Homo sapiens: one gene and its partners. The protein of the gene in region 1 interacts with the protein of each later gene in a pairwise test. Each region holds a gene or a part of one and is shown on either strand. Other genes may lie near its edges. The genes, in order: TSGA10, PIBF1 and ZNF205.

Region 1 (3,650 bases):
TGATTTGCATATGTTGAACCAGCCTTGCATCCCAGGGATGAAGCCCACTTGATGATGGTGGATAAGCTTTTTGATGTGCTGCTGGATTTGGTTTGTGAGTATTTTATTGAGGAGTTTTGCATCAGTGTTCATCAAGGATATTGGTCTAAAATTCTCTTTTTTTGTTGTGTCTCTGCCAGCCTTTGGTATCAGGATGATGCTGGCCTCATAAAATGAGTTAGGGAGGATTCCCTCTTTTTCTATTGATTGGAATAGTTTCAGATGGAATGGTACCAGCTCCTTCTTGTACCTCTGGTAGAATTCGGCTGTGAATCCATCTGGTTCTGGACTTTTTTTGGTTGGTAAGCTATTTATTATTGCCACAGTTTCAGAGCCTGTTATTGGTCTATTCAGAGATTCAACTTCTTCCTGGTTTAGTCTTGAGAGCGTGTATGTGTTGAGGAATTTATCCATTTCTTCTAGATTTTCTAGTTTATTTGCGTAGAGGTGTTTGTAGTATTCTCTGATGGTAGTTTGTATTTCTGTGAGATCGGTGGTGACATCCCCTTTATCATTTTTTATTGCATCTGGATTCCCTCTTTTTCTATTGATTGGAATAGTTTCAGAAGGAATGGTACCAGCTCCTCTTTGTACCTCTGGTAGAATTCGGCTGTGAATCTGTCTAGTCCTGGACTTTTTTTGGTTGGTAAGCTATTAATTATTGCCTCAATTTCAGAGCCTGTTATTGGTCTATTCAGAGATTCAACTTCTTCCTGGTTTAGTCTTGGGAGGGTGTATGTGTCCAGGAATTTATCCATTTCTTCTAGATTTTCTAGTTTATTTGCATAGAGGTGTTTAAAGTATTCTCTGATGGTTGTTTGCATTTCCGTGGGATCAGTGGTGATATCCCCTTTATCATTTTTTATTGCATCTATTTGATTCTTCTCTCTTTTCTTCTTTATTAGTCTTGCTAGTGGTGTGTCAATTTTGTTGATCTTTTCAAAAAACCAGCTCCTGGATTCATTGATTTTTTGAAGGGTTTTTTATGTCTCTATTTCCTTCAGTTCTGCTCTGATCTTAGTTATTTGTCTTCTGCTAGCTTTTGAATGTGTTTGCTCTTGCTTCTATAGTTCTTTTAATTGTGATGTTAAAGTGTCGATTTTAGATCTTTCCTGCTTTCTCTTGTGGGCATTTAATGCTATAAATTTCCCTCTACACACTGCTTTAAATGTGTCCCAGATATTCTGGTATGTTGTGTCTTTGTTCTCATTAGTTTCAAAGAACATCTTTCTGCCTTCATCTCGTTATTTACCCAGCAGTCATTCAGGAGCAGGTTGTTCACTTTCCATGTAGTTGTGCAGTTCTGAGTCAGTTTCTTAATCCTGAGTTCTAATTTGATTGATTGCACTATGGTCAGAGAGACAGTTTGTTATAATTTATGTTCTTTCACATTTGCTAAGGAGTGCTTTACTTCCAACTATGTGGTCAATTTTGGAATAAGTGTGATGTGGTGCTGAGAAGAATGTATATTCTTTTTATTTGGGTTGGAGAGTTCTGTAGATGTCTATTAGGTCCACTTGGTGCAGAGCTGAGTTCAAGTCCTGGATATCCTTGTTAAGTTTCTTTCTCGTTGATCTGTCTAATGTTGACAGTGGGGTGTTAAAGTCCCCCATTATTATTTTGTGGGAGTCTAAGTCTCTTTGTACATCTCTAAGGACTTGCTTTATGAATCTGGGTGCTCCTGTATTGATTGGGTGCATAGATATTTAGGATAGTTAGCTCTTCTTGTTGAATTGATCCCTTTACCATTATGTAATGGCCTTCTTTGTCTCTTTTGATCTTTGTTGGTTTAAAGTCTGTTTTAGGCCAGGCACGGTAGCTTACGCCTATAATCCCAGCACTTTGGGAGGCCGAGGCAGGTGGATCACGAGGTCAGGAGTTCAAGACCAGCCTGGCCAAGATGGTGAAACCCTGTCTCTACTAAAAATACAAAAATTAGCCGGGCATGGTGGCACTTGCCTATAATCTCAGCTACTCAGAAGGCTGAGGCAGAGAATTGCTTGAACCTGGGAGGTGGAGGTTGCAGTGAGCCAAGATCGCACCACTGCACTCCAGCCTGGGCGACAGAGTGAGACTCTTTCTCAAAAAAAAAAAAAAAGTTTGTTTTATCAGAGACTAGGATTGTAACCCCTGCTTTTTGTTGTTGTTGTTTTCCATTTGCTTGTTAGACCTTCCTCCATCCCTTTATTTTGAGCCTATGTGTGTCTCTGCATGTGAGGTGGGTCTCCTGAATACAGCACACTGATGGGTCTTGACTCTTTATCCAATTTGCCAGTCTGTGTCTTTTAATTGGAGTATTTAGCCCATTTACGTTTAAGGTTAATATTGTTATGTGTGAATTTGATCCTGTCATTATGTTGTTAGCTGGTTATTTTGCTCGTTAGTTGATGTAGTTTCTTCTTAGCCTCGATGGTCTTTACAATTTGGCATGTTTTTGCAGTGGCTGGTACCAGTTGTTCCTTTCCATGTTTAGTGCTTCCTTCAGGAGCTCTTTTAGGGCAGGCCTGGTGGTGACAACATCTCTCAGCATCTGTTTGTCTGTAAAGTATTTTATTTCTCCTTCACTTACGAAGCTTAGTTTGGCTGGATATGAAATTCTGGGTTGAAAATTCTTTTCTTTAAGAATGTTGAATATTGGCCCCCACTGTCTTCTGGCTTGTGGAGTTTCTGCCAAGAGATCTGCTGTTAGTCTGATGGGCTTCCCCTTGTGGGTAACCGGACCTTTCTTTCTGGCTGCCCTTAATATTTTCCCTTCATTTCAACTTCGGTGAATCTGACAATTATGTGTCTTGGAGTTGCTCTTCTCGAGGAGTATCTTTGTAGCGTTCTCTGTATTTCCTGAATTTGAATGTCGGCCTGCCTTGCTAGATTGGGGAAGTTCTCCTGGATAATATCCCGCAGAGTGTTTTCCAACTTGGTTCCATTCTCCCCGTCACTTTCAGGTACACCAATCAGATGTAGATATGGTCTTTTCACATAGTCCCATATTTCTTGGAGGCTTTGTTCGTTTCTTTTTATTCTTTTTTCTCTAAACTTCTCTTCTTGCTTCATTTCATTCATTTGATCTTCAATCACTGATACCTTTTCTTCCACTTGATTGAATTGGCTACTGAAGCTTGTGCATGCGTCATGTAGTTTTCGCGCCATGGTTTTTAGCTCCGTCAGGTCATTTAAGGTCTTCTCTATGCTGTTTATTCTAGTTAGCCATTCGTCTAATCTTTTTCCAAGGTTTTTAGCTTCTTTGCGATGGGTTCAAACGTCCTCCTTTAGCTTGGAGAAGTTTGTTATTACTGATCCTCTGAAGTCTACTTCTGTCAACTCGTTAAAGTCATTCTCTGTCCAGTTTTGTTCTGTTGCTGGTGGGGAGCTGTGTTCCTTTGGAGGAGAAGAGACACTCTGATTTTTGGAATTTTCAGCTTTTCTGCTCTGGTTTCTCCCCATCTTTGTGGTTTTAATCTACCTTCGGTCTTTGATGTTGGTGACCTACAGATGGGGTTTTGGTGTGGGTGTCCTTTTTGTTGATGTTGATGCTATTCCTTTCTGTTTGTTAGTTTTCCTTCTAACAGTCAGGACCCTCAGCTGCAGGTCTGTTGGAGTTTGCTGGAGGTCCA
Region 2 (3,650 bases), on another chromosome or scaffold:
TATAACAATATTAATTTATAGTTAATCAGCATTTACTACGTTAGACATTTTTATAAGCACTTTACATGTATTACTTGATATATGCTTCACAAGAACTCTGAGGTAGGACACCAGAATAGAGAGGTAAACTAACGTGCACAGAGTCTTACTGCAGGAATTCAGTTTTAGACAGTTGAATTCTGGAGCTTGCCTTCCTAGCCATAACACTATACTCTCTTCCAAAACAGTGACATGATTAATGATGTTTAGAAGGATAAAGCATTCTTCAGAAGAACTAAAGATTCTTGTAGGACTTAGGTCCGAAATGATATATGTGATGATCTTTCGGGAGGTGATAGCGTATCCTCAGCTGTAATCCCATAATAAGTACCATAGTAACATTCCATTCTCATGGAAAACTTCAGCGTAGAACAAGAACATAATACCATACCAAAGCAAAACACACTGAATGTAGTTTTTCCATAATTACTTCTCTCAAATAGCCCTTTGATAGAAATTTGGGGACTAAAATAATCAAAGTTACATTTAGTAGTTTAAAAAGGACAAAATCGTCTTACTCATCTTTGTATCTGTAGTGCCTAATCCGTGACCAGTCACACAGAAATGATCCAGTCAGTATGTGTGGAGTGAACATGACCTCATTTAGCTGGCCAGCTACTTAAGCAGTAATGACTTAACACAGGATGCATTTAACATGCCAGCTTCTGAAGGTGGAGTTGATGATTGGTTGCAAGATTTGATGAGTTCAAAGAAGGAAAATAAGTAGGAATTTAGTCCCGTCTGCTTCCCCTCCCAGCTTCCCATATTTAATCATTTCTTTTTTAGCTTTTATTTAATTCTTATTATATACCTGGCAGTGTTTAAAGTGGTGGAGGTCCAGCGTTGAGCAAGACAAAATCCCCACCCTTAAGATGTTTACACTCTGGTGAGATAAAGAGAAAACTAATGTGATGGTAATGATACAGTGAGATCAGTGCTCTGAAGGAGACAAGCATTTAGATTATATGCAGGTATTCAGGCAGTGGGAACAGGTTAGAAGCAGCATTAGTGGGTTCAGACAATTTCAGATCTCCATTAGGGTTGGAGGGTGAAGTGTGAATGTTAGGAATGGTGAGAAATGGGGCTTGTAGGAAGCAGCACCAGATTGTAAAGAACCTTGTGACCAACTTTAAGGTTTTTACTTCCATTGCTCTTCCCATATCAGCAATGCCTTTCTTAACATGCTACTGACATGGGGAGAGTAGAGGGAAGAACAATGTAAAGATGTGTTTCGAGGGTCACACGATTCCTTTTTTTCTGAGTAACACAATTGGAACTGCATGTTTAATCTCTTCATTAATTATTTTTCATTGTAGATACTGATATCCATATGACTTTTCATCTCTAAACTGTAAAATCCTCAAGAACAGGAAGTGTGTTTTATTCACTTCTGTATCTTCAGCATCTGATAGTAACTCAGTAAATGTTTTTAAAAAGTCATTTAACATTTGTAGTCATTTTATGTTTTAGCCTAGTAACTAAAACATAGTTGTTGTGTTATTTATTTGAAAAACAGTTTAAGTTTTAAACAACTGAGTTTACAGACCACTCTGTGAACTTAAGATTACTTGCCTTTGAATAGGGAAAAATTACTAAATTTAAAAATTGAGGAATTTTTTTTACTGTTTAATTACAAGGACAATCACAGCTTAACAGAAGACTTCAATACAGAATTTGGGCAACTATGTTAAGTGTTTAGTCTGAAATGTGTTATTATTCCTTTGGTTTATAGACATATGAGGAAGATCGAAAAAACTACTCTGAAGTTCAAATTAGATGTCAACGTTTGGCCTTAGAATTAGCAGACACAAAACAGTTAATTCAGCAAGGTGACTACCGTCAAGAGAACTATGATAAAGTCAAGAGGTAAGTAGTTAAAATGGCTGCAGTAGTAGTTCTCTATTTTTAGGGTGCATCAAAGTCACCTGAGTTTTTACCAACAATCAGTTGTTAATTTTACTTTTACCTTATTCTTCTTTGCACAAATGCATGCAGTTTTGGCAGTTTGTTGGGTTTATATTGTATTTTTATATTGGTTGTTTTTGTTTTATTTAGATGTCACTGCTGTCTTAAAATGTAAACAGAGATAGAAACCCAGTAAAATCACACGTGTGTAAATATTTTTTCAGTGTTATTTGATGATTATTTTTATGTAGTGGAATCAATTTAAATACTTAACAGTTTTCCCTGAAGTTTTTTTCAGCTGTTTCTTCCTGACAAAAGACACACACTCTTTCAAAAAAAAAATGACACTTTCTGAAAATATGTTTCCTAATATTTGCTACTTATAGCAAATACCTTTTTTTAACTGGAATATTCTTTTCTGTTGTTTGTTCAGTAATTTAATGAGCTGCTACTTAGCTGTATGTCCCTCAGTACATCTCTTTTCATTCTGAGCCTAAGTTTCATCATTTATGAGATGTTGCTAATACGGATAACTGCACTATATAAACTAAGATCAAATAAATATGAAAGCCTTTAAATATATATGTACTGCATATGTAATATAAATGGAATGACCTTATCTTAATTGTTCACTCCACTTGAAATAATTCTTAAAATGTAGTAGTCAGTGAATATTTGTTAAATGAATGAATGATTTAAATTGTGTAATTTAAATTACAAATTGCATAATACCGTATGTGAATTTGCAAAGATTTGTGGATAGAAGATTGTCATTTCTACTCCCATTATGACTGACACATGGTATTTCTTATGTATATGGCATTATGCCAAAATATGATAATTATTGGAGCTTTAAATCCATGAGAGCTGTGCTCAGTGGGCTCTGGAATAAAGCTGGAGTTCAAAAGAAGCATTTAAAAATGAAGTAGAGGGCATAGTGGCACATGCCTTTAGTCCCAGCTACTTGGGAGATTGAGGTGGGAGGACTGCTTAAGCCCAGGAATTCGAGGCTGCAGTGAACTATGATCATGCCACTGCACTCCAGCCTGGTGGCAGAGTGAAACTTCATCTCTTAAAAATATAAAATAAAAAAGAATAAAAATGAAATAGATTATGATGCTAAGATGATACCAGTTGGTATTTTCATGTCCCCTCTGCCACTATCAGTCTATAGCAATGACAGATACAATATAAAAAGAGAAAACTAAAAAGCACAGTCATCAGAATAATCCATCGGGGCCACGGATGATCATTGAAACAAGATGAGTCATGAGTTGATAATTACTGAATTTGGGTGATGGGAGCATGGGTGTTCATTATATCACCTCTATTTTTACATATGTTTTCATTTACTATAATAAAAACCTAGGAAAGAAAAATATAACCTTGATCAAAAAGCATGATAAGCATCTTTATGGTAGAAATGGAATAGTAAAACAAGAAAGGACTCAAACTATGACCCTTTTTAGTTCACTCAGCAGAATGAATGAGTTTAAAAACATCGGTCATAAAATATAAGATAAACTGGGGAAGAAAAAAAAGCCCTTTTATGCCCCGGGTAAATTCTCACAAATGTACAAAAGGAAACAGGTGTATGGATGTTAATTGTGTCATTATTAAAAGAAATTCAAATGCTTTTCAGTAGCAGAATGGAAAATAAATTGAGATTTACTCTGCAATATAATTTTATGTAGCAGTTAAAATCA
Region 3 (4,113 bases), on another chromosome or scaffold:
AGATCAGGAGTTCAAGACCATCCTGGGTAACAAAGCAAGACCCCCATCTCTACAAAAAAATTTAAAAAATTAGCCAGGCATGGTGGCATGCGCCTGTGGCCCCAGCTACTTGGGAGGTTGAGGTGAATTGCTTGAGTCCAGGAGGTTGAGGGTACAGTGAGCTATGATCGTGCCACTGCACTTCAGCCTGGGTAACAGAGCAAGACCCTGTCTCAAATAAGTAAATAAATAAACAAACAAACCCTTAAAAGCCCACACAACATAGCACGAGCTGGTACAGAGGCAGCTGGGCCCATCTTACTGTGTGAAGCTGTGCACCTCAGGGGATTCTGGTGAGCCAAAGACAGTGGCATGGGGACGTTTCCTAGGGAAACTTCCTGGAATCTGATTCCAGGACTGGGCCCCTGGCCCTTTTCCTGACACCCAGCCCCCATGCCTGCCCAAGAGAAATGGTTCCTTCCCCCAGAAAGTAAAGCACAGTCTCTGTCCTCTCTATTTGAGGCCTTACTTCTCAGGGTCTAAAGGGAAATGGTGCCTGAGAGGCAGAATCTGCAGCTGCCAGGCGTGTTTGAGAACTTAGAACCCCATTTATAGCTGGATCACACCCTCTATCCCCAAGCTGAAATGGGCCTGGAAGAATCGGATTAACCAACTTCTTCCCAAGGTGTGGGGCATCCGGATTGGGGGGAGTTCCCAGCCTGTTTCCCAAGTTCACTCTTAGGGAGAGAGTTCTGTGCCAGTCTTGGGGGGACCCAGAGGGCCCTTGACTAGGAGTCCCTAAATGAATTCAGGGTCCCTCAGGAGACAATAACCTTCAGAAACCCCGAGTGCTAAAATAAATGGTCCTGCCCTCTCCACCCTGCAAAATGCCCTTCTTTCTACCTGTGAGGACAACTGCAGTGCTCGCTTTGAAATTTCAAATAACACAATCTTTCCACAAAATGCATCTTCCATTTTTCTGTTTTGGTGGCTCTGCCTTGCTGGCATCATGAACGCGTCCTGGGTAAAGCCATCCTCATGAGCTGGCATTGCGGCTCTGGGAGTCACCTCCCGGCCAAGAGCAGGTGCAACCCAGGCTCGAGACTCCACACCCGGAACCCTCAAAACCGGGAACGCTGTAGGGCTGCGGCTGCATGGGGAATGGGATCTGGGAGGGACTTCCTGTCTTCCCTACTCCCAGTCTCCACCCAACTCCCCCGCCCGCCCCGTGCAGGCTGTGGAGACTCCCTTCCCGGGGGAGGGGGCCCCCACTGCCGCAGGTGCCCCCTCTGCCTCCACCCCGGTGAGAAGGGGGTGCTGGGGAGGGCATCTGGATCCCGAGACCGGCGCAGATGATCAGCTTGCAGGAGGGGATGGGGTCAAAGGTGGAAGGCTTCAAGCTGGCAGGAGAGAAGGGGGCCAGGACCGGGTTTGGGAAGGAGAAGGACATTGTCTGCCAGGACCGAGAGCAGGATGGGCATCCCAGGCCTGGGGCAGGTGGTTGCAGCTGCAGGGGGGCTGCTGAGAGCGGGCAGGTTGATTTCTGAATTCCTGGTGGGCATGGGAGTCAGGTAGGGACACACGGTGTATGTCCTGGGGTCGGGGGACAGCAGGTCCTGGATTACCCTGGCCTTGACGGGCGGGGCCCCACCAGCACCTGTTCTGCAGGATCTCTGCAGAACTTTCTGCTCCTGATGACAGGAAATAGCGATTCCAATTTAGCCTCGGCTTTCCCTGAGCCGGTTACACTGAGATGCGAGGCTCTTGCTTCAGCAATAAAGGGGACAATACAAAATAGCATTCTTTCAAAAATAGGACCCAGAAAACATCACAGAGAGTGGGACCATCGGATAGGATCTGGGAGACTTTCTTTCCGATTGGGACCAGGGAGCGCTGGTACTCGTGGGGATTTTCAGGGCTCTTTGGGGGTGTCCAGGAAGCGAGGGCTGGTTTCTGTCTGCTCTTCTAGGCTCCTGGCCAGAAGCTGGAGGGGGCTTGGCCAAAAAGAGGGAGAAACAACTCAGCTGTTCTTTCTAGCTCTGAAATAGAAAATGTCTGCAGACGGCGGAGGCATCCAGGACACCCAGGACAAGGAGACACCCCCGGAGGTACAGATGGGGCTGGCTGAGGGAGGTGTGCGGTAGAAGAGGCTGGTGCGGAGGAGATTTTCAAGGCACAGAGTCTGGACCCCTGGAAGAGTTAGACTCACTGGGGTGGGGAGATCAAAGAGAAGGTGGCATGCTGGGTAGTACCCTCTGTCTGGAATTTACAGCATAACAGTTTTGCTTTGCTGGTGAATTCTCTAGCCAGTGGCCACAGGAGATGGAAGAGGTCTGGGTGGAGGTCCTATCAGTGAGGTTTTCTTTCTGAGCAGCGCTCAGAGCACACAGGGAAACCTGTTCTCCTTCCCCGTGCTTCTCCACCTGGAACCACAGCTTCTCATCTCTGTGGGTCTGAGCTCCCGGTCCTTTCTCCTTCCTGTACCTGCTACCCGTGTGTGTGTGCGTGCGTGGTTGAGTGTGTGTGTGTAATTACTATTTGTGGGGGACCTGGGTCTCCGGGCTTGGAGTTGGAGGAGTATGAGTCAGCGACAGGCCAGGGGCCAGTCCCTGGCCTCTGGGAACCAGATGTGTCATCTGTAAAATGCAGACCACATGCCTGCCATTTCCACCTGTCTCGCAGGGTCACTGGGAGGCTCTAAGGATAATAGGCATGAGACGCCATCATCTATGGTTTTCATGCCATAGAAGCACAAAGAATTGTTAGCATGGTTCAGTTTCCCATCCACTTCCCGTGTGCCTTGAACACCTTGGGCATGTCAGTAGAGCCCCACATGTTGGCATTCTCTGCTGGCACTGGCTTCTGTCTGGTGCGCACGGCGGGGGGGATTAATGACCAGCGCCACCCTGTGTTTATCCAGGACTTTCCTGAGCTGGCAGCTCCTTCTCCATCATTATCTGCGTGAACCTCATGACCATTCTGTGCAGGGGCAGAGCAGCTGCGTCCTGAAGGCTGCCTGATTGGGGAGGGGTGTCGCTGGGTCTGGCACCCAGGCACTCTGATTCCTGGCCTGAGGTTCTTTCCCTTCAAGACCCAAACACAGACAGGGCGTGGAGGAAGGAGTGTGAGACCCCAGCAGAAGTCCGGCCAGTTCCTGTGCTGTGGATGAGGCCCCACCAGGGCCCTCCCTGACTTTCCCAAAGCTTTTGAGCTATGTGGTCACGGGGCATTGTCTCATCCCCAGCCATGGTGTGTTAGTCTCCCGTGGCTGCTGTAACAAGTTTCCACTCTCTGGGGGGCTGAAAACAACCAGAATTGGCTCTCTCACAGTCCTGGAGGCCTGCAGTCCAAAATCTAGGTGTCAGCAGGGTCACACTCCTTTTGAAAGCTCTAGACTAAGAGGACCCTCCCTTACCTCTTCCAACTCCTTGGGGGCTCCTGGTGTCCTTGGTGTGGGCATCCCTCCAGTCTCTGCTTCCTTCTCTGTGTCTCTGTGTCCTCTCCTATTCTTATAAGGACATAAGTCATTGTTAGATTTTAGGCTCACTCTAAATTCACGATGATTTAATCTCAAGATCTTTAACTTACCTGTATAAAGACCCTTTTCCCCAATAAGGTCCCATTCTGAGGTCCAGGGAGGACACGGATTCTTAGAGGACACTATTCAAGCCACTACACTTGGTTTCTTCATACACTAATAGACAGCAGTCTACACTGCTGAGGTCAGTGTGAGGCTGGAGCTGAGAAGGGGTAGCTGCCCTTGGGCACCACGCCCACCGGCACTGTGGAGGCGGCTTGGTGAATATTCCTCCTCTTGCCGCCCGTCCTTGCTGGGGTGAGCTGGATGAATGCAGCAAGGACAGTCCTTCAAGCTGCGTCTTGCATGTTGGTTTCCGACGCTGCCGGAGCGCACTGCCATGTGGCCCTGGGTGTCTCTCCCACTCATCTGGGTGCTGATGGGGCTGTCCTTTCTAGGTTCCAGATCGTGGACATCCTCATCAGGAAATGCCTTCTAAGCTGGGGGAGGCGGTACCTTCAGGGGACACTCAGGAGTCACTGCACATTAAGATGGAGCCCGAAGAGCCACACTCCGAGGGGGCATCGCAGGAGGATGGGGCTCAAGGTGCCTGGGGC

What was found.
Region 2: the proteins of TSGA10 (region 1) and PIBF1 interact in a two-hybrid assay, tested with the Homo sapiens proteins (one large-scale study listed by BioGRID).
Region 3: the proteins of TSGA10 (region 1) and ZNF205 interact in binary tests that used the Homo sapiens proteins (3 or more experiments, as listed by UniProt).

The regions. Positions count from the first base shown.
Region 1 is NC_000002.12:99,001,350-99,004,999, reverse strand, and holds part of TSGA10 (testis-specific gene 10 protein), read left to right. Parts: intron 1-3,650. UniProt on the Homo sapiens protein: Plays a role in spermatogenesis. When overexpressed, prevents nuclear localization of HIF1A.
Region 2 is NC_000013.11:72,820,078-72,823,727, forward strand, and holds part of PIBF1 (progesterone-induced-blocking factor 1), read left to right. Parts: intron 1-1,771; coding exon 1,772-1,905; intron 1,906-3,650.
Region 3 is NC_000016.10:3,111,401-3,115,513, forward strand, and holds the start of ZNF205 (transcriptional repressor RHIT), read left to right. Parts: upstream 1-1,185; 5' UTR 1,186-1,282; exon of another isoform or gene 1,283-1,550; intron 1,551-1,948; exon of another isoform or gene 1,949-2,016; 5' UTR 2,017-2,030; coding exon 2,031-2,087; intron 2,088-3,394; exon of another isoform or gene 3,395-3,487; intron 3,488-3,567; exon of another isoform or gene 3,568-3,954; coding exon 3,955-4,113.